Regions from separate parts of the Homo sapiens genome. Here region 1 is linked to region 2. Evidence: fine-mapped expression QTL. A gene starts in region 2. The other region holds a variant in brackets. All regions are shown on one strand. Distances are from middle to middle.

The links.
Region 1: its variant is fine-mapped to the expression of GALNT6 in lymphoblastoid cells (TwinsUK, PIP 0.95).

Annotation. Positions count from the first base shown.
Region 1 is chr12:51,354,494-51,366,539 of GRCh38, forward strand. GALNT6 (polypeptide N-acetylgalactosaminyltransferase 6) reads right to left here. Exons shown (of 12, transcript NM_007210.4): 5 at 10,937-11,086; 6 at 9,628-9,862; 7 at 6,228-6,345; 8 at 4,639-4,839; 9 at 3,637-3,768; 10 at 2,856-2,957; 11 at 1,313-1,465. Among named protein-coding and RNA genes, the nearest start is that of CELA1, 14 kb to the left of the region's middle. RefSeq lists an enhancer at 3,311-3,360. The variant G/A (reference allele first, on the strand shown) is at 4,620.
Region 2 is chr12:51,385,635-51,397,680 of GRCh38, forward strand. It overlaps GALNT6 (polypeptide N-acetylgalactosaminyltransferase 6), which reads right to left and starts at 5,772. Exons shown (of 12, transcript NM_007210.4): 1 at 5,653-5,772; 2 at 5,216-5,303. It also overlaps a transcript of SLC4A8 not described here. RefSeq lists enhancers at 2,373-2,872, 3,898-3,987, 4,949-5,534, 5,535-6,119, 8,163-8,252 and silencers at 2,471-2,765, 5,805-6,344.

The sequences.
Region 1 (12,046 bases), 31 kb before region 2:
TAAAAGATGACAAAGCAAAAGGTCAGTCTGGGCCACAGACCTCTTAACGGTGCTACCAGGGACAATGCGATGGGGTGCAATTGACAAAAGCCAAGGGAACCCCACAAGGCACAAAGAGGACACTTCCCCATTCCTTTCCTGCCCTCTCATGAGACACATTCCTGAGTTCCCACCTCTATCTGGTGCCAAATCCCCATCCCTAGCTTCAGACTGAGTGGATGAAATGGTGAAAGACAAGACCATGGGCTGAGAGAAAAATGCTTTCAGGGCCTCCCGCACCCCCAGATGGCCAGGCTCAAAGACCCAGGGCCACTGCTCCACCTCCAATTTTCTGCCTTGGATTATGTTTAGACTGCTCCCTTCCCTGCAGCCTCCAGGTTAGGTTCCTCTTTCCTAAGCTGGGGTGGAGTAGGGAGGCTCACTTGGGGTGCTGGCTTGAGCTCAGCATGGTGGCGGTTACATGGCATATCCTGGAGCAGTGTGGTGTAATGGAAAGAGCCCGTGCTTTCAAGTCAGACCCATCTGGGGCTAAATCCCAGGCCTGCCATTTACTAGTGATGGGTCTTGGGCCAGTCACAGACATGCTGGGCTTCCTCCGGCTCCAGCTCATCTGTAGAAACAGTGACTATTCCTGCTTGGAAAGAGCCTCTGAAAGATTAACTGGACCCAGGCATGTGAGTGCCTAGCTTTGAGCCTAGGACACAGAGGACAAGCAGGAACTATGAATGACTCTTCACCTTCTTCTAATTGGGTTCAGCCTAAAAATGCTTCAGCCATGGCAGAGCTAGCCACGAACCATAACCTGTCACCCCATTTTTACATCAGTCATCACCAAATACCCTTTAAGCCTGAAGAACCCTGCCTGTGGCCACACACACACTCACCTACCTTCTACATTGCTCTACTCCACCCCATGGCGTCTCAGGAAGAAAATGAAGAAAATATAGAGGGGCCGATGTGGCCTCAAGTTCTCTTTTTATTTTTTATTTTTCCCAAGATGGAGTCTTGCTCTGTCACCCAGGCTGGACTGCAATGGCACGACCTCAGCTCACTGCAACCTCCGCCTCCTGGGTTCCGGCAATTCTCCTGCCTCAGCTTCCTGAGTAGCTGGGATTATAGGCGCCGACCACTATGCCCAGCTAATTTTTGTATTATTAGTAGAGATGGGGTTTCACCATGTTGGCCAGGTGGTCTCGAACTCCTGACCTCGTGATCTGCCCTCCTCGGCCTCTCAAAGTGCTGGGATTACAGGCGTGAGCCACCACACCTGGCCTCAAGTTCTTGATTCTGAGCTTTCTGGACACTGACTCACCTGGGCCAATTCCCATTCCTCGTCCTTGGGGACCTGGCTATTCTTGCCAGTGAAGTGACAGCTCCCAAGGCCCAGAGCACCCTTGCTGACATGTAGACACAGCTGCTTTGCGATGTTGTGGCGAAGGTCCCTCTGAGTTGTGTACTCAAAGTACTGGAAATCAAGACAAGAGAAGCAGGTGGAGAGTTCACCCCCAGCCTTCCAAAGCCACCTGCCCTGAGCTGTCTACCATGCATGGTCTCCTGGGGAGGAGAGTGAATGTGAGGCCATGCCAAGACTTTACTCATTTATGTGCTGCCTTCAGGATTGTTACCATATCAGGGTTATGCTGGAATTTTATATACATATATATATATGTGTGTGTGTATATATATATGTGTGTATATATATATGTATATGTATATAAAATTCTTTTTTATGAGATGGGGTCTTGCTATGTTGCCCAAGCTGGTCTCAAACTCCTGAGCTCAAGTGATCCTCCCACCTTGGCCTCCCAAAGTGCTGGGATTACAGGTGTGAGCCACTGCGCCCAACCAGTATATTTTCTCTTTTTTTTTTTTTTTTTTTTTTTTGAGGCAGGGTCTTGCTCTGTTGCTTAAGCTAGAGTGTGGTGGCATGATCATAGCTCACTGCAACCTTGAATTCGTTTGTTCAAGCGATCCTCCATGTCAGCTTCCTGAGTAGCTGAGACTGCAGGCGTGTAGCACCACACTCAGCTAATTTTTTAAAAATTTTTTATAGAGATGGGGTGTCTTGCTATGTTGCCCAGACAGGTCTCAAACTCCTAGGCTCATGTGATCCACCTGCCTCACCCTCCCAAAGTGCTGGGATTACAGGTGTGGGCTACCGTGCCTAATCATATTTCCTTTAAATTAGATTAAAATTCAATTTAACTTAGCCTCATTTTAAGTAACATCCGTGAAATCATGTGATATGCTTGTTCTATTTTTGCTAATACATTACTATTAAAATAAAAAATGTTCTCCAGTGCACCACTGGAAATCATCTTGCAGGCCAGTGGTACAGGAAACTGCTGTAGAATGACTGTCTTCACCTACATATGCCAGCGGGCTTGTTCAGTGACCCACACCACTCCTTTCCCCACTCTGGCTCTGTTTTCAGTGCCTCTCACTTACTAGTGCTGGGCACCTAGTTTTGGGGTCACTGGAAGGTGGTAGGATCAGAGTGGTAGCTTCTGGGCAGAGGATGCATTGAAGATAGAAGTTGAGTGCAGGTGATGGGATGTGCTGGAAAATTTTCCACCCTCACCCCTAAATATCCCCCAGCAGCTAGCCTCCTCAAGCCTCCTCTGATGAACAACCCTCCCTCCCATCCCCTTCTCACACCCAGCACCGATGCCTCGTTCTCTCCGGATGTCCCTTATTCAGACCTTGTGTGTGTTATGCCTTCTCCTCCGACTGGAAGCTTCCTGAGGGCAGGGATGGTATCTCCTCCCTCCCAGTCCTCAGGAAAGGACTCTTTAGGGTAGAGAAAAGGAGCCGGTGAGGAGAGGAGATGCTCCGGAGATGGGTGGGCTGCATACCTGGTTGCCGCCAAGGCCGTGGCAGGAGTACATGATGAGGGGCTTCCCCCCGCGGTTGTTCTCACCCACATCCAGGCATTGGTTGGTGCCGAGGTTCTTGATCTGCAGAAGGGTGAGCAGAGAGGGGAAGCAGGATGGCACAGTCAGGAGGTTCCTCATGTGTGGTATGGGGCCCCACTGGAACAAATTCCAGTCAACTGCAACAAATTTGCATGGCTGGATTTCCCCCGTCATTTCTCTCCTCTGTGCGTTAACCCACATGCCTGGAGCTAACAGCAAAGTGAGCTGCAGAGCCCCAGAGGCTGGAAAGGGCAGGACTGAACCCCTCTGTGGGGCAGGCAGGGAACCTCCCAGGATGCCAGGTCCCTGGAAGAAGCCCTCAGCACGTGGGAGTTTCCTTATAAGCAGTGGTTCTCAAATGTGAGCCCTGGACCATCAGCATCACCTGGAGACTCGTGAGAAATGCAAGTTTTCAGACCTCCCCTGAGTCCTTCTGAATCAGGAACTCTGGGGATGGGCCCTAGCGTTTTACCGTGCCTTCCTGGTGATTCTGATGCATGCTAATGTTTCAGGACCACTGCTTGTGGGTTGTTTTGCCCTTTATAAGGTTTTTTGCTATCTCTAGAAGCCCCAACGTGGCCTCTCAGTCCTCCTCCTGGATAAAGGAGGGTGCAGGGCAAAACTCAATTCTTGTTTGTCATCCATCTGTGGGGTCAGTGGTCTTGAACTTCTCCAAGGGGTGCTGTGGTGATGGGCAGGCAGGTTGGTTCTCAAGACTTACGGCACCATAGAAGGTGGGCGTCAGGTCAGGAACAAACATCTCTGGGTAGACATTGTGCAGGTACCAGGAAAAGTTGTGACAGTGCAGTTGTTCCCTCAGCTGCAGTCGTTCCGAAATGTCACCGAAGGATTTCTGTCAATCAAGCCAGCCCCCTAAGGATCAGTTCCACCAGTTTTTTTTTTTTTTTTTAAGAGGGAGTCTCACTCTGTTGCCCAGGCTGGAGTGCAGTGGTGCAATCTCGGCTCACTGCAACCTTCCCCTCCTGGGTTCAAGCGATTCACCTGCCTCAGCCTCCTGAGTAGCTGGGACTACAGTCGCGCACCACCACGCCCAATTAATTTTTGTATTTTTAGTAGAGATGAGGTTTCACCATGTTGGCCAGGCTGGTCTCAAACCCCTCACCTTAGGTGATCTGCCCGCCTCGGCCTCCCTAAGTGCTGGGATTACAGGCGTGAGCCACCACACCCAGCCAGTTCCACCAGTCTTTGACCTTCCTGTCTGGGCTGAAGTAGTGCAGATAGCATGGAGCGCCTGGGGCTACTGTCTCTCATGTTCATTCCCACTCAGGACCTGTTAAAGATACTGGCCCAGCCCTCACATCCAATCCCAAAAACCCCGCCTTAGCTTTGGAGTCCCCTGCTTATCGGTCCATCTCCTGTGACTCCCCAGACAATTATGTCCCACTCCCCAGTGCCGAGGCTCTCAGAGCCATTCCTCCAAAGCCTCCAAAGCCTCCGTAAGAGGCTTTTCCTCCAAATCTCCTTTCCCTCCCTTCCCCTCCAAAGGGATGCAGAGACTCTATGCGTAGGGACAACATTCTCTAGCTTTTGAAACCTATGTGCCTTGTGGCCTTCTCCTGGGCTCTAGCTCACAGGTCCCTGAGGGTGAAGGGAGGCGCCAGATGGTAGAGATGAGGTGGGTCCCAGCCATTAGGCCCATGAACAGGGTCTGGGGGCCGTACTTCTCTTCATCTAAACCTCTCC[G/A]AGAACCATTTCCTCTCACCTCTTGGGCCATCTTTGCTGCCTGCAGATTTCTCCTATAGAAAATCTTCTTGTAGCTGTCCATCCAGACCTCTGCCAGGCGCACTTGATTGCGAGCAATGACACTAGTGCCCTTGGGGAAGGTGTGGGGGCTCTTGGTCCGGAACACATGGCCTACGACAGAGCAGGGGATGATCTCCAGCTGGCCCCCACACTGCCACACCTGATGTAAGAGGAGACAGGATGAGGCCTTCAGTGGGCTAGGTGAGACAGTCTCCCCATAAGCAGCTCTATTCTATTCCCAGAGCACCAGACCCCAGGTCCAAGGACTTGGGCAAATGCTGCTCTCTCTCCCTGGGAAAAAGGATACCGACCAGGCTTCTTCCTAGGCCATGACTACACGATCCCAGGCTTTCTGATGTTGGTTCACTCTGACTTAAGCACAGGGAGACTGCAGGGTCCTGTGTTTACCAGGGCCCACTTTAGGGAAAAGCCTGCTGGTTAATTTTTGTTACCTGTGCCTGTATACCTACTCTGAGCTCTGATCACTTGGCTTTTTGACCTGGAAATGTGAGTTTATCAGCTCCCTCAGGTGATAAAAACCAGAGCATCAGTCTGTTAATTAATAGCAAGGATAGTTGGCTGCTAGGTGGCTAGTGGTAGTCACTTGGGCCCTTAGCACACTGGCTGCCTAGGAAGGTGAACAGAGGTCAGAGGCTCATGGAGGAGCCTAGGATTGGGCCGCTGGGAGTTGGGGTGACTGGCAGGTGACCCTTTTCTATGCTGGTGGGCTGGCTGAAGACATCCCTCCCACTGGTTTCTTCTTTTGGGTTTTAGGTGGGAAAGTATGTTGTTATTCATTTTAGTGTGGCAGCAACAGAAATACATAATCGTTATAGTAACAGCAGGCATCAATTACGTGCTTAATATGCATCAGGCACCGTGAGAGGTGACTTCATAAATGAGCTCATCTACTTACTAATTACTTTTCCATGGCATGGAGATTTGTGTAGGTTTCATGGAGAGGCAATCCTTGCTTCCTGACCTAATCCTGATTTGCCTAATTCCTGGAATCTCTCAGAGTTCTGGGGTCCACCAGAGTTGGGGCCACCATCTTCTCTGACTGTTATGAAGGGCTTATTGTACATAGGTAGGGAAACTTCAAAGGTTACCAGGGCATGTGTCCTTTGAACTGGGAAGGGGAGCCTGATTTTTCCAGAAAAAGGATGATGACTGGTTACTCATCTGTTTTTTTTTTCTAGCCCTAGTTGTGAACATACTAACCTGTTTCTATCTTCACCCTAACCCTTTCCCACAGACATCGCAAAAGAGTCCCCAGTCACCAGATGTCCAGTCCTCATTACCCCTATTATTCCTTGCCTCTGAGAAGTTGTGCCCAGTAGTTTGTTTTGAGCTGTCCAGGCTGACTGCCCAAGCCCTACTGCCATGGACAGGGGGAGCAGAAAAGAGGAAGAGACACACTGGGAAATAGCCACCCTTTCTAGTTCAGTTCCAGATGGGATGTCCCTGATGCCACCTCTGCCTGAGAGATGTTTCTCAAGCTGTCGCCTGGGATGTTGTGGTTCCCCCCAAAGCCCTCTTCACTCTCACCCGGAAGGACATTTCCACGTTCTCCCCTCCCCAGATCTCCATCTGATTATCATAGGTACCGATGTGCTCAAAGTAGGACTTGGAGATGGAGAAGAGGCCACCAGCAAACGTCGGGGATCTGGAGAGACAGAGGGAGAAGTGTGTGCATCTTCTGGGAGAGGAGGAGCGGAGCCTGGCGGGGAAAGCTGTTTGTGGACTCCCCTCCTAACCCACCTCCCCCTCCTTTCCTCTTTCTCAGGACGTGCAGCCCCTCATCCACTAACTCACTCATCATTTAGCTTTTACTATGTCCTCTTCCCCTTCTAGGACCAGGTCAAGGAAATATGTAATTATCCTCTAAAAGGCACTCATTCATTCGTTCAACCTAGGATGCACGTAACACTGGCCACCAGGGCCCGTGCTACATGATGGACACACAGAACGGAGAAAGACAGATCCTATTCCCCCAGAGCTCAATCTAGTCACAGAGGTTAAAGCTACCATTAGTTACTTTTTGGCAGCAAAGTGCCTGGAGCCTAGGAGATACTCAACTTTCAGAAGCTGTGTGAAATTGTTTTTGAAAATAGGCAGGATTCAAACCATGAATAAATGAATGAATGAATATTGTCAGCTGGGCTGACTCCATTCTGTTTCAGGGCCCCTGCCCCTCAGGGACTATTAAGCCACAGTTTTAGTAGGCGCCTAGCCCTGGTGATTTACACTGCATGAGAAACTGTAGATTTGGGGAGAAGTTGCCAGTTGCTTTTAACAGAGAAAGCTGATAAAAGGTGCTCCTGGAAACAGTGGAAGGTCAGGTGAGATCAAGCTCAATTTGGGCTACAGGGAACATTTAGAAGGTTATAAAAAGATTCTGGCTTTCAGACACAGGCAGGGAGGTGTGGACTCAAGATAAGATAAATTGACAAAAACATCTAATTCCTAGAATTTAGATACCAGGTTGCTTCGAAGAGGGACTGGGCTAAGCGTTAGGGTATCGAAGCGGACCCGGGGAAGTATAAGCAAGATGGAATGCTGGGGTGGGGGCCGGTGAGACATGGCAGGAGCACAATCATCAGCTGCTGGTTTCTGTTTGGGCCAGCCTGGCATGGCTAGGGCTTTGCTGCCCTCAGTGGGCAGCTTCATGTGGTACAACCAAGCAGAAAGATACAGAACCCCTGTAACCCCAGAACCTATCTAGGTGCCTTACACACAGCTGGGGCCCAATCACTGTTCATTCGCATGATCCATCAAGGTGCCTACCCAGGAATGTGACCCTGGTGTTACCCTGTGGTTGCTCTTGTCTACCTGAAGTTGGCTCCTGCAGCCACTTTCTGGAAGGAATTTCAGTCGTGCTCAGGCTGGCTTCCTATCACTTTGGAAGAGGCTCTGGCCTCTCCCAGGGGTCTTAAACCGGCACAAGTAGCACCCTGAGAGGCTCAGAGAGTGCTGGAACTGCAGAGGAGCACTTGGAAGCCAACCTGCTTCCTCCCCCACAGGCCCTGAGTCTTGTCTTTGAGAAGTCTCCCAGACCGAGAAGTCACTGATGGATTAGCCATGAGGACAAACCCTGCATGGGAAGCTTCACTGTAAATTCACAACCACAGGCAACCTCTAGTAAACACCCTTTATGTCCTGGCCTACCCCTAGAATCCCCCAGGTCCTCTGCCTCTCCTCTTAGGCTCTGGTTGGCTTGAGATGGGAGGCCGGGAGGGGACTGTCAGCAGTCCTCCTGGGGTGGGGGCGCTACATGAAGAGCCTCGGCAAGCCATGCATGCTACCGGGGCATGTGGGCCAAGGAGCACATTCATTCCTCAAACACTGGAGCTTTGTCTTCCAGTTGTATGGCCCTTGGACATTGAAGCCTGCGACGTCAGTGATGGGTGGGGGCCAGGTGCCCTCTTTCTGACTGTGCTGCTGTGTGCCTGGTCACTGGCATGGGGGTGGGGGTGGGGATCTGTTGCAGTGCACACCAAACAAAAGGCAGCTATGAAACAAACATTGGGTCAGTGGAAAGTTCCAATTTCTTTTCTCTCTTTTGCCTTTTCCTTTCCCTCTCTCCTTCTAATGGAGACAGAGCAGCTGGCTGTTCAGGATCTGTGGGATTTCTCCCTGTGGCATTCACCTGAGTTCCTTTCTACTGGGACTCTGAGCAGGTTTTTTTTTTTTTCTTTTTCTTTTTTAAGAGATGGGGTCTTGCTATGCTGCCCAGGCTGTTGTTAAACTCCTGAGCTCAAGCAATCCACCTAATCCACCTCAGCCTCTCATCTAGCTGGGATTACAGGTGTGGGCCACTGTGCCTGGCATGGACAGCATTTTTTAGGATTCTGGGCACGTGGAGAGGAAGAAGCACCAATCCTTTCCTCCTTTCAAACCTTCCCTCTTATCTCTGGCTACTGTATCTCCAACCTCTGCATCCCTCCGTCCTGGATGTATATTCAGTTGAGCCTTAAGTATACTGGCCAGTCTAAGATAACAATGACACAAATAATCCCAAACCACAGGCTACACTAAAAGTCACTCCTCAACTTGGTTTGTCTGAGACAACTGTTAAAATAAACTTACAGTCTCCAATAACACCAACAGGCTGCCTGGAGAGGGGAGGATGGGGTGAGTATAAGAGGGAAAGGTGAGCCCAGTGGGCATTAAACTGTGGGTTGACTTCCAATTGTCTACCCTGCAGCTCAGGGGCTGGCACACAAGAGCCTGTGGGCAAAATCTGGCTGCCTGGTTTTAGAAGCCTCTGGGGCAAAAAATTATTTTTACATTTTTTAATGTTTGTAAAAAAAATAAAAAATAAATAAGATGAAGAATATGCAGCAAACTATATGTGGCTGGCAAAGCCCAAAATATTTATCATCTGGCCCTTCACCAAAGAAGTTCAGGGCAACTGCTACAAACTTCACGCTGCAGAAAATGTGTCTGTTTTCTTTTAGTATATTCTCAGTCTTTTCAAAGACAGTCACCTGGGGGCACATACCACTCCCTCTTATTACAGTGACTATTCCACAATGGCCTCCATCACATCTCTTGCCCCATCTGCAAGCATGGGCCACTCCTTTTATGTGTAGGGAGGAATAAACTAAAGAATGTATAGCCCTTAGTTCAGTGCCTGGCACATGGTAAGTGGTGAATAAGAGCAAACTGTCATGGTGAATAAGAGCAGTGCCACGGTTAGGGCCAGACAGTCCGGGAAGTGTGTCCTTGCTCCACTGTTGCTAGCTGCATGATCTTAGGTCAGTGTTTATCACTATGAGCCTTAGTATTCTTAGTATTGTACCTGCTTCATAGGGAGTGAGGATTAATCACAATATGTCAAGTGCTTGATAGAGCACCTAACAAATGTTGATGTGAGATGGCACAGGTTCCTGGAACTGGGTAGGACTGGGGCCAGGTTGGGGGCTCACCAGGCTGCGGTCCTTACTTGATGGGGTAGGTTTCATCCTTGCGCCTCTGCTTCTCATGTGGAGGAAGTGTTTCCCAGCCGAAGGTCAGGCTCCAGTCAAAGTTGCCTCGGCTATGGACTCTGCCCCTCTGGACGGGCTTGGCGAACTCAAAAGTATTAAGGTCGATGGTGACGATGTCTGGGCTCACCACCACTGTCTTGTCCTCAGCGATTCGAGCCAGGAGGGGCTCCAGCCAGCCGTGGAAGCACTCACCTGCAGGCCCCAACCAGGAGGCAGCAGTCAGGGCCCTGCCCACAGCAGAGCCCAAGCTGCATCCTGGAGGGAATGCCCAGGAGGATAAGAGACAGTCCACCTACTCCTGGGTTACAGGCAGCAAGCCCCACAGCTACAGGGAGCACACAGAATTTCCTAAAACCCTTCTACCACCCCTCTACCCCCAAAGGCGGAGGCAGCTTTGGCAGGGAGAATGGAGGTCTCAGGGGAGTAACATGGTCAACTCAGATGACCCAAAAGCACAGGGAGGCCCTGGATGGTATCTTCCGGGGTTCCAGCCGATCCATTGGCCCAGCCCTCCGGGCCCACGTGTGGATTTCAGAAGAGGGTGTTCCCCCTCCCAGGGGCATCCGCATGTCAAGCTTCAGCCCTAATTGTAGAAGAATAATCTCTTTCATTTGTCTAGCTCCTTGAGATTTTCAGTGAGCTTCTGCACGTATTATTACTTCATTCGGCCCTCAGAGTAATATTTCTGTTCAGTAAGGTTAGTATCCTCATTCCTATTTTATAAATGAGGAAACTGAGGCTGTTAGTGGGGCAGGGTCAGAATGCAAACCAAGAATTCTGACTCCAAGACTAGAGCTTCCCCTAATATATATCACCACTCCTAGGGAAAATATTTCATCCTCCACAACAGTGGGGAAGTGTTTTGGTTTTGGGCAAGAAGGAGGCCTTCCTGGCTCCATGTTGCCCTAGAAGAAAGCCCCAAACAAGCCAGTTCTGTCATAGCAGGAGGCCTCTCTGAGGGGCCAAGCTCAGAGCAAGGTGCAGATGGGAGTACAGGGAGGGATGAATGTCCGGGGCCCCGGTGATCACTGGAAATCACTTCCAGTGATTTTGGGGTCACCAGTTGTTTTAGGGATGTTTGTCTTCTTGATGAAACATCCTTGGGATTGGGGTGAGAAAGGGGTAGAGGCACCTGGAGTGGGTCCCAAGCCTCCTTCACTCCCGGAAGAGAGAACAGGAAGGGGCCTTGGGGAGGCTGTGGCCCTGGCTCATTCTAGCAGGGAGGGAGCCTCCAGGTTACACCCAGGCCGGTGCCCTGGTACTCACAGTGGGCATCCAGGAACGTGAGCACCTCCGCCTGTGCCACGCTGGCCCCCAGCAGCCGGGCGGTGATCAGCCCCTTCCGCTCCTCCTGCCGCACCACCCTCACCACCTGCAGCTGCTTCACGTACTGCTCCAGCTTCTCCTTTAGGTGCTCTGGAAGGGACAGTGTCATTGTGGCCAGTCCACCACTTTGCTGTATACCCAATCCCCTGTGGGCACCAAGCTAGGGGCTCTCAGGCCTCTAGCAGGCCTGAATTTTAAACCCCCAACACCTGCTGTACTGAGCCATTCCACAGAAGCCGGAGCTGGGGAAGGAGGTTAACAGGGAAGATGGGGAGAGGAAGAAAGAAGCCCTGTCTGTGGTCAAAACTGCCTCACCAGGGCTCTGGCTCTGTGGTGCTAGATCCTATGCCTGTTCACCTGGGCACCCTCTCTAATGTCAGGGACAGCACCTCAGAGTTGTGTTTCTGTGGTCACGTATCAAGTACAAACTTTTTGTTGTTGTTGTTGAGATGGAGTCTCATTCTGTCACCCAGGCTGGAGTGCAATGGCGTGATCTTGGCTCACTGCAACCTCCACCTCCTGGGCTCAAGTGATTCTCCTGCCTCAGCCTCCTGAGTAGCTAGGACTACAGGTGTGTGCAACCATGCCTGGCTCATTTTTACATTTTTAGTAGAGATAGCATTTCACCATATTGGCCAGGCTGGTCTCGTACTCCTGGCCTCAAGTGATTCGCCTGCCTTGGCCTCCCAAAGTTCTGGGATTACAGGCATGAGCCACCACGCCCGGCCCAAGTACAAAATTCTGACAGAGGCTCTCAGATGCCTCCCTCAGTTTCTCCACCCTCTCAGCCACCATCTTCCAGAGCTGCAATTCCACAGCTCCATTGCACGGTTGTTTTCCAGTGTCTAGGATTCCCTGTCTCCCAGGCTCTTCACGGTAACGTCGATGGGTGGGCATACACAAATGGTGACTCCTTGCTTGCTGGATCAGCAGCAGGACATCTGACTCTAATCCCCTTTGTAACCTCCTCTGCAGATAGAATTCTTTAAGGTGAAAACATGCCCAGCAGCTTTTTAATTATATTAAGAAAATACTTGCACCAAGCACCTA
Region 2 (12,046 bases):
AAAGCCTTCTCAGATCTCCCAGCAGAATTCATCTCTTCCCTGCTTTGCCCCCTTAGCACCCGATTTTTATTTGTACTCCAGTCTCATCACAGCCCACCCTGTGTTTATGGACTCCTGGACCAGAGAGGCCATGCCATTTCCAGCTTTTTATCACCTACAAAGTCTAGCACAAGTTTTACATATAGCAGGTGTTCCATAAACTTTTTTTTTTTCTCTTGGAGACAGGGTCTCACTCTGTCACCCAGGCTGAAGTGTAGTGGCATGAACACAGCTTTCTGCAGCCTCGACCTCCCAGGCTCAAACAATCCTCCTATCTCAGCCTCCTGAGTAGCTGGGAATACAGAGGTGCGTGCCATCAGGCCTGGCTAGTTCCACAAACTCTTGTTAAATGAGATGAGGTTGGAAGGGTTAAATGTGGAGCACTGGCTTCACTAAATGATGTTCTGAATGAACTTACTGCAAGAAATACTTGACTTACAGGATATTCTGCCATTACACATTAGCTTGCTGTTTTGACTAGGTCTGTCTGTGGGTCTAACACCCTCATTTTATCAACGGCGAGGCCAGAATGGTTAGGTGACTTCTCTAGCAACACACAGCTAGTGGCTCCCAGGAGTAGAACCCGATCTCTCAACTCCTAGACCACTACTCTGTTTACCACACTCATACCCGTGGAGGTTGAGTAGGGAATTTGGGGACCAGGCCTGTCCTCCCTGAGCCTCCCCGACTCCACCCTTTGATCCCCTTCCTGGCATTTGCCTTCCTCCCACTCAAGGATACAAATGCTTTAAAGATGTGGAGACTGGAAGTCCCAGGCAGCCTTAGCTTTTGTGAATGTCAGAGTCAGCCATCCAGAACATGCCCTAGCTTTCCAGGTGGCCTCTTTGTAACAATGTTTCTTTCTATTTATCAGGTGAGCTGGTCACCTCCTTAGACGTGGCAGCAGGAAGCAAGCAGTCCTTACCACAGCGATATTTGCTCAAGTTACTCAGAGGAGGGCTCAATTACAAGTTTCTTTGGAAAGTGATAACTGTCACCACTCTTACCACGGGCACAGGTGTGTGGAGCTAGACATCATATTGGGGAGGGGGCAGGTTAATTTCACACTACTGTTGGGGGAAATGGGGCTGAGAGGCTGTTTGGCCAAATGACCGTCCTTTCTTCCTCATAAGCACTTTCTCTCCATCAAACACAGCACTCATCTCAAGTCCTCTGTACTCATACTGTGAACAGAAGAGCAAATTATCTTCTCCAAAGCCCTCCTCCCACCCCTGACCCTTTTGATCACAGAATGTGGGAGGTTTTTATTTTTCCCCGTAATTACACCTTCAAGACACTTCAGCTTTTCTCCAAGACTCAAGCTGCAATACTGTGGCTTATTTTCCCAGGAAGATACGCTGAAAATTATTTCTGTAGCTAGTCTGTCAAGTTCCCCCAACATATCAAGGTTCATTTTATGTTTGCATAATTTTTTTTTTTTTGAGATGGAGTCTCATTCTGTTGCCCATACTGGAGTGCAGTGGCGGGATCTCGGCTCACTGCAACCTCCGACTCCTGGGTTCAAGCGATTCTCATCCCTCAGCCTCCCGGGTAGCTGGGATTACAGGCGCCCGCCACCACGTCCGGCTAATTTTTGTATTTTTTTAGTAGAGACAGTGTTTCGCCATGTTGGCCAGGCTAGTCTTGAACTCCTGACCTCAAGTGATCTGTCTGCCTCGGCCTCCCAAAGTACTAGGATTACAGGTGTGAGCCAATGCATCCAGCCTGTTTGCATGATATTTTAAGCTTAAATTACCCAAACATGGATTTTCTATTGAAAAACTCAACCCAACTTTGCTCACCACTGTATACCTAGAGCAGCGCTTGGCATGTGGTAGGCACTTGGTTAATATTTGTTGACTTATTCCAAGAAAAAGTCACCAAAAATCAAAATAATATGCCACCAAACAGGAGGTTCAACAGTTCACAGGTTTTTCACTGGAGACCCTGTAGGCCCTTCCAGGTGGGGCAGGGGTGTGCAACGGTTTATCCCTAGGAGTGCAGAAGTGGAGGGAGGGTTCCAGGTGGAGATGAGGTGGGATTCTCTAATCACCTAGAAGCCTTGGTGACAACGAGACTGGGCTTGAGGGGGAGAGTTGGGGGAAAGGACAGAGAAGGGACAGGGAAGTGATGAGAAGGGTGGAAGACAGGAGGGGTATTCCCGAAGGCCTCTTGGGCCAGTCTTCAAATTGGGAAGGGGGCTTAATGGGAGAGACTAGAATTGAATTTTTCCTTTTCTCCTCATCCCCCAGTCTGCTCTTGGCTGCAGAACTTTCACCCGGGGCCACTGGCTACTCAATGTACCATCCCCTGGGCTCAGGGTCTGTGCCCAGCCTCCTCTGCTAGCCAGCCTGCCCAATTTCCCCATTGCTGCCAGAAGCATTGAAGTCCGTGAAACAAGCCAGCCCCTGTCCCACTCTCAGACAGGTCGTTTTTAATCCTGTCTCAATTTCAGGTTCACCCCACACCCGCTCCCAAGTCCTGCTGATTCATTCCCTGCCTCCGGGTTCCTCACTGTCCTTTCTGCTTTCAAAACCTTCATTTGAAATTGGGCCTTTATCAACTAGCATCTGGAGGATCAGCAGGAGCTGCCTGCCAGCCTCCTTTGCCTCGGGCCCCTCTCTCTCTTTCACAATCAGGACAGCCGTATTCATATTCCTTGAGCACTGTTTGACTGTGGCAGAAACACAGAGGGGCTGGCCGGGTTGCTTCCTGTTTGCTGCTCACCCTCAAGCCCAACCAGATGCTTGGCACTCACTGGCTATCTTTTCTTCCTCAAAGCCTTTCCCTTATATTCTTGCTAAGCAAGCCATATTTCTTTTCTTTCAAATTCTTACCAGAGACTCCCCTCTTTCAAGAAGGCTTCCTAGACTAAGGTGCATCTTGCTGCCTCAGTTTCTAGGTGTTATTTGTTCCCAAGTTTCTCTACTACCCGTGCTTTCCTTACGTGGGATTTCCCCACTAACTATCATGGAGAAGGGAGAACCAACAGGCCTAGACGGTAGACCACCTAGATCCTATTTCCTTCTCCTTCCCAATCCTTGAGTCTTGGTCCCCAAACTTCTGTCTCCAGAATGTTCTTCCTGACCAATCTACCTGGCCTTCCAATCCCTGTCGCATCTCTCTGCCTTGAGATGTATGGCAATGCTATTTTGCTAGTCTGTTCTTCATTCTCTATTACGTGCAGAGTTGAGGACTGGGTTGCTTTCTTCCTTCAAATCTCTACCTAGGCCTTAGGACCAAGTTGTTCAGGGTACGAGAGAATAAGCTGACCCCACAGGGCTGTCAGGTGCCACAAAAGTCTTCTAACAGTCCTTCTCCTCCCTGGAGTGAGCTCACCCTTGTTCACCACACAGGCCTTTTACACAGCACAATTACAACATTGAGCTCGACACAGAGACAGGCACTGCCCTGCACTTAACCTCCTGCTTATTCAAATCCTCACTCTCGTTCCTATCAAATGAGAATGAACATTTGGGCTTTCCCAGAAAGGGGCAGAGGACTGTGTAAAGAGCTGAGTTCACCCAAGCTACGGCATGGACACACCCAACCTGGTCTTCAGCATCCCTTCCAGGGCTGAGATGTCGGAACACATCCGTGGGAGCCAGAAAATGTTAAGAAGAATACCATCACCATTTTAAATATTACTGCTTACCATATCAAATCAAGTTACAGTTATCTTCTCTGTTTTACACAGAAGGAAACTGAAGCACAGGGAGGTCAAGTAACTTGACCAAGGTCACACAGCTAGAAATGTGGCAGAGGCAGAATTTGCATTCAGGCCTATGTATCTCCAAAGCCCACTCTCTTAACTATGACATCACATTGTCTTGCATTTGACTGGTGCTTGGAGCTTTGCCAAAACACTTCATATACACCTTCTCATTTGCTCCCCACCCAGGGAGTGTTTATGTGTTTTGGCTAAGATTATATATCGAAGTTAGTGACAGGGCTGAGTCAGCTGCCTGCCTTCATGATACTCACTGCCTCCCTGCACTGAGAGGCCCTCAGCCCTAGGGTTAGCTGCCCCTCCTGGTCCTGAGGTCTGTTCGAGGCAATGGTTGCATGGACTAAGTTCATGCTCATATTTCCTGTCCCCACTTCTTCCAGCTGAACTTGGGCAAATATGTTTCTGACCTCACAGGGCACCTGACACACATCAGGGCCTCCCCTTCTCTGCCCTGAGTTCTTCCATGCTGCTACAGGTAGGAGTCAGCTGTTCCACCCACTGTAGGACTGTGGGCAGCATTACTGAGGTGAGGTCATCTTGAGCAGCCCAGTCTCCTGCACACTTCCCTCTTTCTTTTGAGGGTCTTGTCCTGTTCTCTGCCCTGGTGCCCCTGGAAGCAACTTTCTCTGATTACCTCTGGGTTCCTAAAGTGCATGGCACCATTAAGGAACTGGAGCTAGGGAAATGCCTGCAATGCTACTGGCTCCTGCTAGGCAATTGGAATCAAAGCATATTTCTTTCTTTCTTTCTTTCTTTTTTTTTTTTTTTTTTTTTTTGAGACAGAGTTTTGCTCTTATTGCCCAGGCTGGAATGCAATGGTGCGATCTCAGCTCACTGCAACCTCTGCTTCCCAGGTTCAAACAATTCTCCTGCCTCAGCCTCCCAAGTAGCTGGAATTACAGGCGCCTGCCACCATGCCCGGCTAACTTTTTGTATTTTTTGTGGAGATGGGGTTTTGCCATGTTGGCCAGGCTGGTCTCGAACTCCTGATCTCAGGTGATGCACCAGCCTCAGCCTCCCAAAGTGCTGGGATTACAGGCATGAGCCACCACATGTGGCCGGAACCAAAGCATATTTCAAACCCCTCACCTGACCTGGTTTTCATCATCACATGAATTTCCCTGTCTCATCCTTCTTAACCTTTCCTTTGATGGGAAGGGAGACAGCTCATCTGTCTGGAGCGGAGAATAGGGCCTGTGTGGTGCACACACATCTCTGGTAGAAGGCGCAAAAGTCCTCGAGGCTCTTTGGTGTGTCCAGAACTATGAACCTCACCCAGTGCCTGTAAATTGTGTGTGTGGGCCTGGGGGCGAGCTCAGAGCACAGAGTTAACATCCTTTCTGAGAGTGCTGCAATGGGTTGTCGGCTGCTAGAAGGGGTCTGCTGTAAGCTTTGTGGGCAAACTGACCACCCTCCACCCCCATACACAGAAGAGCCCCATCCTACCCTCTGCAGACGTCTGGGTCTGCGATGATTGGCCCTGGATGCAAGTAAAAGCTGTTTCTCCTTTTTGTCAGCCTGGGAATCTGAACAACTGAGGAAATAGGGAAGTCGGTGACAGTCACAGTCATGAACACCCAGCAGATTCCATTTCCCCACAGCAGGAGGCAGATCCCTTCCCACCCCCAAAAGCCCCCAGGCTCTGGAGGGAATTCAACCAAGCAGGGCTCAGACCGACCTCCACCAGCGAGGCTTCTCCTTGCTGTCCCCTTCTGCTCAGGCGCAACGTGGCAGGGCAGGAGGAAACCTCTCTGCAAGAGTTGCCGTACCAGAGCACATGGGGTGGCCCGATCTGGGGAGACGGGGCACAGAAGGAATGCAGGGCATGGGTGGGTGAGGGGAAGAGGGTGTGGAGCCCTGGCTCTGGCTTGTCCCCCTCTCACCCCTCCAAGTTCCAGAGGTCTGGGCTCCTCATTCATCTCGTAAGCGCCAAGGTGGAGGGGGGTCCTACCGAGGGAGGAGCTACAGGCCACCGCGACCAGCAGAGAGCGAAGGCAGGAGGGACCAGCCTGGCCCAGCCCCTTCATTTTACTGTCGGGGGTAGTGAGGAGGAAGAGGAAGAGGCGAAGGCTGGCGGAGGAGGAGGTGAGAGCGAGGACTCGGCAGAAGCGAGATCCGCCGAAGGGAAGTCCGAGCAGTCGGGGAGCTCAGGGGGGCCCTCCCGGGGAGAGGGTCGCGGGCTCCTTCTGCCGCTTACCTGTCGCGCCGAGGCAAAGCCGCAGCCGCGCCGCGGGGTGGCTCCCGGGTTTCCCCACCGGACGGCCGGGAGGGTGGGACCGGGGCGGGACCTCCCCCAGCTGCACTAACGCGCCCGCCCCGCCCCTCCCTGGCCAGGTGCAGCGGGTCCCGCCGTGTCCTCAGCCTGCTGCGGGCCCGGGAACTCCCGGCGGACCGGCAGAGGGGCGCCCCGGCTTCTCTGCGTCTCAGCCCGCCCCGGGGGTGCGGTCTTTGCGGCCAGGCTTTCAGCGCGGAAAAAGATTGGAGGGTCCTAGTCACCCCAAAGAGGACAGGCATTAGCAGAGCCGCGGGCGGCGGGTGCATGGAACCGGAATGTGCTGCGCGCCAGCCTGGAGCGCTCGGAGCCCGGAGGCCTGCCCCGGAGGGGGAAACGCGGCGGGGCGGCCATGGGCCCCGGGGTCCTGCCCCAGGTTTGCTTCTCATTTGTGCTCCATCCAACAAGAGCTCGTATTCCGTGTGCCATGAACTGTGTCAAGGGCTCCAAGTGCCAGGTATCAGGTGAATCCCAGCCCCAGCAAACTTTAAACCTACTATGATTATTCCGAATGTACCGGGGAGGCAGCTGCTCACACAGCAGAGGGTGTTTCTCAAAGTGGGATCCCCCACCAGCAGCGCCAGTCAGAATCACCTGAGAACTTATTAGAAATTTTGGCCGGGCGCGGTGGTTCATGCCTGTAATCCCAGTACTTTGGGAGGCCGAGGCGGGCGGATCACAAGGTTAGGAATTCGAGACCAGCCTGGCCAACATGGTGAAACCCCGTCTCTACTAAAAATACAAGAAATTAGCTGGGCGTAGTGGCGGGCGTCTGTAATCCCAGCTACTCGGGAGGCTGAGGCCGGAGAATCGCTTGAACTCGGGAGGGGGAGGTTGCAGTGAGCCGAGATCACGCCACTGCACTCCAGCCTGGCGACAGAGCGAGATTCCGTATCAAAAAAAAAAAAAAAGAAAAAAAGAAAAGAAAAGAAAAGAAATGGGCCCCACCGCAGACCTAAATATTCCGAAACTCGGGTTGGGCCCGGCGACTTGTGTTTTAAAAGCCCTCCGGGTGATTTTGTGCATGCTCGACCTTGAGAACCCTGAACAATTAGTGGCAGGGCTGGAATGAGAATCCTGGTAAACCCGCCTCCTAAGCCGGTGTTCGGAATTACCCCGCCAGGGCCCGTGCTGCTCAGTGGTCCTCTCCGGCGCTGCCTCGTGTGCTGCAATCTTTTGGGGCCTTAGCAACAGAGAAGGAGCGCGCATGACTCCAAATAGCCAATAATTTGAAAACTTTCTATGGTAGAAACTTCTACCACTAGTTCAGTTTCTCTTTTGTTTTGATATTTAAATAAATTTGTCTTTCTTTCTTTCTGTTTTCTTCCTCTTTCTGCTGCCCCGCCTCCCTCCTTTTTTCTTTTTTCTTTCTTTCTTACTCTCTCTGTCTCTCCTTTCTCTCTCTCTCTTTCCTTCTTTCTCTTTCTTTCCTTCTTTTTCTCTTTCTTTCTCTCTTTCTTTTCTTTTCTTGCTCTACTGCCCAGGCTGGAGTGCAGTGGAGCTATCACGGCTCACTGCAGCCTTGACCTCCGGGTCTCAAGCTGTTCTCCTGCTTCAGCCTCCACAGATGCATGCCACCATGCCCAGCTAACTTTTTTTTGTAGAGAGGGAGTTTCGCCATGTTGCCCAGGTTGGTTTCAAACTCCTGGGCTCAAGCCATCCTGTTGCCTCGGCCTCGCAAAGTGATGGGATTAGAGGCATGAGCCACCGAGTCCAGCCATGAATTTGTATTTCTAAGACCCTAAGACCTGGGAGCAGGAGCATGAGTGAGTAGATCCTAGCAAGAAGTTCTGACACGCACTGGGAAAGGCAGGGAAGCCAGCCGGGTGTTAACAGGTGAATGAAGAAAGTAATCTTTTTTTCTAACCTGAGACTCCAAGGTAGGTTTGATCTATTCAGAAGGTGAGATGTTCTTTGATGGAGTCAGGAGAGAAGGCCAGCAGAGTGTGGAGAAGAAGAGTTGCCCAGCTACACATGATCAGAGTGACGTGAAGGATGGACATTCTCCCAGGAGTAGAAAGGGGTTCATCTGCTCACTCTTGGCATGATGCCCGACTCCCCTAACTCTAAGCAGCCTTCCACCAACTCCCTTCCTTTCACATTCCAGGCCGTGGGCTTTAAGCTCCTAGAGAGACTTTCTACAGAGCTTCCTTGAGCATCCCTTAGCCCATCTGTAGACCCTCTGGACTCTGATTCCACCTCACTGCCCCAGCTGCTTCTATTCTTGTCATGTGCCTTACTTGACAGCTGTCTTTCTCAGAATGAGGGCACTTCCTGTGGAAGATTGTGGGATGCTGCCCCTCATGTCTCTCTTCTTGGGGCTGAACACTCCCTGTACAGGTCGGACCTACCGTCTTTGCTCTGTCCTTCCTCCACCTCTGCCCTTTGACCCTCAGGGGTTGTGTGATCCTGACGTGAGTCTTGCACCTTAGTCAGGACCCAACCTAACCTGAGGTGAATGGCCCCTATTCCTTCCCAGGACAGGGTCATGGCCATTACCCCCAGCCTGGTGCTCCTGAGAGGGCCGGGCCCAGCTTCCCAAGAAGTAGCAGCAGTCTGCGTTGTGTGTTTCGCATTCCGGAAGCAAATTACTCATCTGATTTTACTTCAGCTGACGCTGATTTTAAATGTGACTTGGAATCCTCAGAATAATTAGCTGCCTAATTTGGAGGTTCATGAGTCCGCAGGATGTGTGACCCACCCCTAATGTGTCATGCACTGAGCTGTTCTCTCCTAACAGGAAGGACGGTGCAGGCTTCCTCTCCACCAAGCCAGGAAGGTTTGCAGATGAGCCACCACAGAATAGTGACTGCAATTTCTGCCTCCGCTGGTACAGGCAACTTTCGAAAAATGGTTTTTTAGGCTGGGAGTGGTGGCTCATGCCTGTAATCCCAGCACTTTGGGAGGCTGAGGTGGGAGATCACTTGAAGCCGGGACTTTGAGTTCAGCCTGATACAGCGAGACCCTGTCTCTACAAAAAATAAAAATACAACAGGCACGGGGGCCCACTTGAGGGTGGAGGGTGGGAAGAGGGAGAAGATCAAAAACTACCTAGCGGGTATTATGCTTATTACCTGGATGACAAAATCATCTGTACACCAAACCCTCGCAACATGCAATTTACCCATGTAACAAACCTGGACATGTACTCCTGAACCTAAAAGTTTAAAAAACATATATGATAGTGAAAAAATGAAAATAAAATTAGCTGGGTGTGTTGGCATGTGCCTGTGGTCCCAGTTACTTCGGAGGCTCAGGTGGGAGGATTGCTTGAGCCTAGGAGTTAGAGGCTGCGGCGAGCTGTGACTGCAATGCTACATTCTAGTCTGGGCAACAGAGCAAGACCATGTCTCTGAAAAAAATAAATAAAAAAAAAACGGGTTTCTGTAAATGAAAAAGTTATACGTAAATGAAATGGAAAATAAAAATGAAAAAGTTATATATGCACATGGTAATAAGTCAGGCACTATGAAAATGTATACAGTGAAAGCTCCATTTCCCACCTCTCTAGACATTGTCTCTATCTCCAGAAACCTTGGGTCCAAGGTCCCGTGCATATTCCTGACTGAAAGTTCCCATAAGCGCTTCTGCAGGACATGTCTAGATTCTGTTAACTGCAAAGACCCAGGATGACCCCTTCTCAGGAAGTCCTATGAATTTCTTTTTTTTTTTTCTCACGATCTTATTTTTATTTCTTGGCTGTTTTAGATTCGGGTTTTGGGTGTTCTGAGTTTCACTTTTCACATGAGTGTGCATCAAGGGTGTTCCCCACCATAAGGCAGGAAACCTGGAGGGGAGCAGAACAGTGGAAGTGTGACAAAGGCAGCTCTGTGAGGCCGTTGACACCAGCCCTGGCCTTTATCTAGTCTCTTCCTTCCACACGGTCCCTGGTGAGGGGATACCCACCTCTGGTGGGGCAGAGTGAGGGAGACCTGCCCTTCAGGGGGAGGTGCTGGCTCCACTTAGCTAGGGGAGTGTGCAAGGGATGCCGTGAACTTGCCAAGGAGGTTAGTAGGGAGGCCAGCTGGTCAACCTCCCTCTGTCCTATCACTACCTCTCATCTCACCCACTCTCCTCTACCCTGAGGGAAACAACGGAGTCTCCCACTCCCTCCCTACCTCTTTGTTTCTTATCTGTGAAGTGCAGTTAATGATACCTGGGGTTGTTAATGAAGCTCAAGTGAGATAACACATGAAAGTGTGAGAGTTGGGTCTTCTAAATTACATCTGCTGCTCTACTTTCCTGCATATTCACATTTACTCCTCATCTCATTCCCATGCTCAGGAGAGAAACAGTTAAAGCGAGAAATATTTTAGGGAACCCAAGCAGAGCTGCTCCTAGTTCTGCCATAATCACTCATGCGCTACAATTCACCCATTTCTGTGTGCCTCAATTTCCTCATCTGTAAAATGGATATGTTATTTTTATGATTGGGTTGTAAGATTAAATAAGCAAAGTGCTTAACCCAGCATCTGGTACACAATAAGCAGTCAGTTGAAATTTGGATGTTAGCCATTATAATATTAGCTGTTTTTCTTCTTTCCTTCCTCCATTCCTCCCTTCAATAAAATGCTGTTAAAGTGCTCCATGTGTTAGCCTCTATGCTAGGTCAGGTGTGGAGATACAAGGATAATAAGTCATGTCTGTCTCATCCAGACACCCATAGTTTGTCAGGGGAGCCTGATGTAAAAATGACTATGAAGGAGCAGGGCTAGGACTAGGGTAAGGCAAGTGAGGGCACTTCTCTTGAGTGCAAAATTTATGGGGGCATCTAAAAACTCAGTAACCAAGATAAATAATACTTTAATGCAATATTTTAAAAAAATCAAAATTAATGCAAAAAATCAGTGATGGACAAAGTATCAAAAATTCAAAATAAAGAATCAGCTGGGCCTGGTGGCTCATGTCTGTAATCCCAGCACTTTGGGAGGCTGAGGCAAGAGGATCACTTGAGCGCAGGAGTTTAAGACCAGCCTGGGCAACATAGTGAGACCCCATCTTTATTTAAAAAAAAAAAAAAGACTAGTTTCCTTCTAAGCCATATTGAAGCCTAAGGAAAAAAGAAAAATATATACCCTCATACATATTTTTCTGTATTTTTTGAATGGTTATTTTTTCCTAGAGCATTAAAGTAGTTGAAAAAACATTTAAAACTTGAAACATAGGTGTATTAAAACTCACAGCATTACTTTAAATATTTTATTTGTTCCAAAATGGAATTTATTATGATTTTACTTCAGCCTTAGTTAATTTTTTTTTTTTTTTTTTTTTTGAGACGGAGTCTCATTCTGTCGCCCAGGCTGGAATGCAGTCGCACGATCTCAGCTCACTGCAACCTCCACCTTCCAGGTTCAAGCGATTCTCGTGCCTCAGCCTCCCGAGTAGCTGGGATTACAGGTGTGTGCCACCACACCCGGCTAATTTTTGTATTTTTAGTAGAGACGGGGTTTCACCATATTGGCCAGGCTGGTCTTGAACTCCTGACCTCGTGATCCGCCCACCTCGGCCTCCCAAAGTGCTGGGATTACAGGCGTGAGCCACCACGCCCGGTCTCAGCCTTAGTTAATTATAATTTATTTAAGATCATCACTTGGTCAAGGGAAACTGTCAAACGTGGCAATCTTACAATTCAAAATGAAATAAGCAAAACAGTTAGTTTTGAAAATATGACTAATGAGTTTGCTTGCCTTAAAGCCAGGAGCTTGTATTTTTCCTTTTGCCTCAAGCTCCAATTTGGCTTAGCATGGCATTGGATTGGGACGTGGACAAAGAACATAAAGAGAACAGAGAGGAGAATAAGAGACAGGGAGAAGGGTTGAAAGAGTCAGGTGGGATGGGGAATATATTATTTTTCCTAATGATCCAAATATCACATTTTCAATGTGCAAAATTTCAGATGCACAGAAAATCACAAAAAAAGAAGACAAGTTATCCATAATTATGTTACCTAGAGATAACCAATGTTGCTATTTTGGTATGATATAGTCTGCTCTTTTTCTATGCAT